2 separate regions of the Homo sapiens genome follow, and region 2 is linked to region 1. Evidence: fine-mapped expression QTL. Tissue or cell type: whole blood. Region 1 holds a variant in brackets; the other region holds the start of a gene. All regions are shown on one strand. Distances are between the middles of the regions.

The links. PIP is the estimated chance that this variant, and not a neighbour inherited with it, causes the effect.
Region 2: TRABD2A starts here. The variant in region 1 is fine-mapped to the expression of TRABD2A in whole blood (INTERVAL, PIP above 0.99).

What each region holds. Positions count from the first base shown.
Region 1 is chr2:84,798,612-84,801,111 of GRCh38, reverse strand. All of the region lies in intron 70 of DNAH6 (dynein axonemal heavy chain 6), which reads right to left. Among named protein-coding and RNA genes, the nearest start is that of TRABD2A, 81 kb to the left of the region's middle. The variant G/A (reference allele first, on the strand shown) is at 999.
Region 2 is chr2:84,879,736-84,882,479 of GRCh38, reverse strand. It overlaps TRABD2A (TraB domain containing 2A), which reads left to right and starts at 1,396. Exons shown (of 7, transcript NM_001277053.2): 1 at 1,396-1,548. The coding sequence starts at 1,441. RefSeq lists a silencer at 1,292-1,421 and enhancers at 1,151-1,651, 1,652-2,154.

The DNA.
Region 1 (2,500 bases):
CCCTCCCCCCACCCCACCACAGTCCCCAGAGTGTGATATTCCCCTTCCTGTGTCCATGTGATCTCATTGTTCAATTCCCACCTATGAGTGAGAATATGGGGTGTTTGGTTTTTTGTTCTTGCGATAGTTTACTGAGAATGATGATTTCCAATTTCATCCATGTCCCTACAAAGGACATGAACTCATCATGTTTTATGGCTGCATAGTATTCCATGGTGAATATGTGCCACATTTTCTTAATCCAGTCTATCATTGTTGGACATTTGGGTTGGTTCCAAGTCTTTGCTATTGTGAATAATACTTTCTTTTCTCTCCAAGGAATGATAATAAATGGTAGATTTAGTCACTTTACATAATCTCATATTTCTCAGAGCCTTTGCTCATTTTTTAAAAAATTCTCTTTTCTTTATTTTTTTCTGACTGGGTTGATTCAAAGGACCAAACTTTGAGCTCTGAAATTCATTCTTCTGCTTGGTCTAATCTGTTGTTAAGACTTCCAGTTTCATTTTGATACTCCCGTAGTGAGATTTTCAATTTCAGAAGCTCTGTTTGGTTCTTTCTTAATATAGCTGTATCATCTTTCAAACCTTGGATTATTTCTCTGGCTTCTTTGCATTGGATTTCAACTTTCTCTTGGATCTCATTGAGTTTCCTTGTCATACATATTCTGAATTCTGTATCTATTATTTCAGACATTTCAATCTGAATAGGATCCATTGCTAGGGAACTAGTGTGATCCTTTGGAGGTAACAAAGCACTCTGGCTTTTTGTATTGCTGAAGTTCTTGTGCTGATTTCTTCTTATCTGAAGGAATTGATGCCTCTTTATCTTTTTGAATTTGCTTGTTTGGATGGAGTTTTTTGACATTTTATTCTTTTTTTTCCTGGAGGATATGACTGTGGTGTATGTTGTGTACAATCAATTGGCTTTGTTTCTGGGTGCTTTCAGAGGGGCAAGGCTCTATATGGGTTCTTTGGTTACATAGAGGTTTGTGCAGT[G/A]TGTTTGACAGGCATTGCTTGTAGCAATGTTATTTTTGTTTGGTATTGTAATTCAGGCTGTAGTCCTGGCTTAAAAGAGCCAGCACATAGGCTCTTAGCTGCAATAGCCCTCAGTGGGGGTGGAGGCAACAGAGAAGCATGCTCCTCCAACTCACAGTTACTTTCAGCAGGGTGGGTCCAATGGAGAATCACAGAAAAGCAGCTTACTGAAGTACACACACTTACCAGGCCCCAACAGGAAGGGCTCCAATGGGAATGTGGGTGAGGGTGGAAAATGAGAGACGCTCCCTCTTTAAGTCCATTCCTAGGCCTTGGTGGTGTCTCTTTTAGTGGCTGGCATCACACCCCCATTTCCTTTTTCCCAAGTGGGGCTTTGGTGGAGTGCGCTCCCTCCTTTCTTAGGGGTGCTTTGCACCAAAGACTGTCTCTAGAAGACCATTTACTCCTTAGGTAACTGCCTATCCCCTGTGCTTGCCAAAGTTAGAGTGAGTTGTGGAGTATGTCTGCAGGTGGTTTGGTGATGCAGTTGTTCAAAGGTGGAGACTCCCTGGACAGGTTAGTGGCACTGCCAGTGTACAACCAATATGGCACCTGCTGCCTAGGCTTCTCAGCCCAGCGGATGGTTGTGGGGCCTGCCCAGCTCATGTTCCCTGACCTGGTGGGTCTCCCTCCAGTCTCTGCCCAAGTAGCAGGCCCAACCAGCTAGGCTTGTCCCAAGCCATTTTTGTCCAGATCACTGAGCCAGCCCAGGCATTCTGGGCTATGGAACTCAGTAAGGGAAAAGTGGTGGCTGTTAGGCCATGCTCATCCTGGAAAAAGAGGGGTGGGCTGGGCGCAGTGGCTCATGCCTGTAATCCCAGCACTTTGGGAGGCCGAGGCAGGTGGATCGCCTGAGGTCAGGAATTCGAGACCAGCCTGGTCAACATGGTGAAACCCTGTCTCTACTAAAAACACAAAAATTAGCTGGGCATGATGACAGCCACCTGTAATCCCAGCTACTTGGGAGGCTGAGGCAGGAGAACTGCTCAAACCTGGGAGGTGGAGGTTGCAGTGAGCTGAGATTGTGCCACTGCACTCTAGCCTGAATGACAGAGCGAGACTCCGTCTCAAAAAAAAAAAAAAAAAGGAAAGAAAAAAAGAGGAGTGACCAGCTCCCTTGCTGGCATACAAACCTATGCCATATTCTTCCTTGTGTTCCCCTACTCGAGCTCAGGCCACAGATATCAACTTGATATCCCTGGGTGGTGTGCTTGAGTCCTGGGGAGTTGGGACCAGAACTGTGGATTTTTCCCCTGGCCCCTAGGGGTCAAGCACTGGCTGTGATGGGGGTGGTGAACTACTCCTGGGCTGCCAATAAAACACTCAGGCAGGGCCGTGGAGGCTGTGCTGTGGGCACTCTCCCACAGGAGCGGCCTCAGAGGTGGTCTTGGGAGGGGCCAGCAGGCAAAGGGGTGCATGGAATAGATGCACTTTGGGCCTGTAGCAGTGGTGGTGGGGCCTGT
Region 2 (2,744 bases), 81 kb before region 1:
ACATCCTTTTGAGTTTTTTGTTTTGTTTTGTTTTGTTTTATTTTAAATAAGAGACAGGGTCTCACTTTGTGGCCCAGGCTGGAGTGCAGTGGTTCGATCTTAGCTCAGGGCAACTTACGTTCTTGATGCTTTTTGCTTTTCCCCCTCACAACCGAAAGAGAAAGTTTTTGCCAGCAGGTGGCAGCGCTGGTGCCTGAAAACGCCAAAAAGCATCGTCCTGGGTTGGCCCGGAGACTAACGATTGCCGCCGGGCTGACACGGGGCAGTCATCTGAAGACAGGAGACAGTCAATTCCAGAAAGCAAATCCCCACTCAAACTTAGAAAAAAGCGATTTTACAAAAACATCTGAACTCTAAATGTTGGTGGAGTTAAATCTCGAAAGACTTGGCTCTTCAAAGCCAGGGGTTCTTTACGGGAAAGTTGGAAATGGGCTTCAGAAAACCTCTCCCCGCATTGTATGCAAATCTGCCCCCCCCCTTTTCTTTTTCCCTGGGAGATCGTCCAGTTATCAGATTCTCAAAATGGACAGCGACTTAAAGCAATTAAAGACCACTGCGACAAATGCTCCTGCGAACACCACTCCGAAGTTAATGGCGCAGACGTCTGGACTTTAAAAGGTGGTGGTAAAGTGCGCTCAGGCATGGGTAGGAGGTGCGGCAGGCGGGGCACAGCTACTTGCTTTCATAATTTTTTTTTCTTCCTGATGGACCAATGCTGTGAAAAATCCTCAGTGGGGTTTTGGAGCCGAAAGGGAGCGACTGCAGTTTGCAGGCTTGCTATGTGTGCCAATCAAGGTGTTTCTCATAAATTTCCTCTTTTAATCCTTGCGGCAATCCTCTGAGTTCGGTGTTAACATCCTTAATATTATTCCTAAAAATCCATTAAGAGGGCTCTTAATGGAGTGCCAGCTTTTGTGGTCCTGGATTTTCAGTGGATGCACACACTGACCATTCCCCTCTCTCTTTTACATTCAAAACTTCCGTGAGATTTCCTTTGTTTAAATGAACTTTCCTTTATAGATAGCCTTTCATTTGTTTATTTTGTCTGCCTCTTTCAATCAAGAGGCACCCTCCCCTCACAATCGGCAGCATAAGCACAGACGTAAACGCAGGAACCAATGCGATTTTAGGTTGAATTTAGGACAGCGCTGGAACTTCACTTTACCCCTCTTGCGGTCACACGAGGTGGGCGGCGGCCCCGGCAGGGTTTGGGCGGGAGAAACGCGGTTCGGGACTCCGCTGCCGCCTAGGCGCGGGGCTGACCTGCGGGGGTGGGGTGGGGGGAGGGAGGTCGAGGCCCGGCCCCACGTGGCCGCTGCTGCCGGGCTCACCCCAGCCCCGCCCGGAGGCGCCCCGCGGCCCCGGCTAGCCAGGGCGGGCGGCCACCTCTGCCCTACTCCTTCCCTCCGCGTTCCGGGCCTCGGAGCCGCCTTGAGGAGGATGAGTCCCTGGAGCTGGTTCCTGCTGCAGACCCTCTGCCTCCTGCCCACGGGCGCAGCTTCGCGGCGCGGGGCGCCCGGCACCGCCAACTGCGAGCTCAAGCCCCAAGTAAGGCGCGCGTCGGGTGCTGGAGAGCCGGCCTCTCTGCACCTCCTTGGGATGGTTTCCCTCCGAACCCCGCGAAGCAGCGCTTTCGGACCCCGAGCCGACTTCCGCGGCTGGGCTTTCACCTAGCACCGCGGCGCTCCTTGCTCGCTCTCCTCTCCGTGCCCTCGGGTTCCCCTTTCCCGCGGGGGCGCAGCCCGCAGGCTCCAAGCGACTCAGTGCCCTGGCCTTTGCCCTCCGCCAGCCCAAGGGCGTCCGAGAGAGCCTCTGGGGTCTCGCCAGCCATTTTCGCGAGCTTTCGGGGGACGGATCCGCCAGGGAGTACCGGACCAGGAACTTGGGCACATTTATTTGAAGTTTCTTCTTCCCTCTCTTCCTTAAGAGTTTAATTTCACCTGCTCTTATCAAAATATTAACAGCGCCCTGAAGCTGCTTGGCTTAACCTTCATATGTTCAGTGCCTGAGTTAGAAGGGACTTTAGGGAGTTGAAGCCATTTCCCTTGTTTTTACCGATCTGGGAAACTGACACTCAGCGGGGGACCTGTGTGCTCCAGGTCACAGAGTGCGTTCGCGGAGTGACCACTGTCCGAGCCTTGCGTGTCCAGCCGGGCGCTTTAGATGTTCGCATCAACGTTTTGTGGGTGAGGGAAACCCAGGCAAGGGAGGCTCAGTGACCTGCCCGAGTCAACACAGCTCTATAGCGGACAGGTCTTGCGTCTCCGAGGCTGGACCTCTTTCGAGATGAATATTTCCTTCTCTGATCAGTTTTCCTACACTCAGAATTTTCTGTGGTTCTCGAGTCCCTCTCTTCTGAGTGCGGCATAGGTTGAATTTCGCGCATTTGTTCCGGTGGGTTTGATATCTGTGCGTCCCTGGCTCTGGAGAGGGCCATGCCAGGCTTATCCTTCTGGTGCGCCCGCGACGCGGGGGTGGGGGGGGTTGGGGGTGGGTTGAGGGAGTGGGGGCTGGAATTTAGAGGCCCACCTTTGATGACACCTGCGCAGCTCCCCGGTCTGCCTCCACCCCTGGCCATTCGCAATTTTATTCCTCATCCCAACTGCAGCAAAGCAGAGGACGGCCAAATAGAGCCGATCCTGGAGCTCCGGGCTGGGAAGACGCACGGTGTTCGCCTCTGTAAGGCGTCGCGGGGCTGCGGACGGCCCTCTACCAAGGCAGGAGGCGCGGCAGCTGGAGAGGGG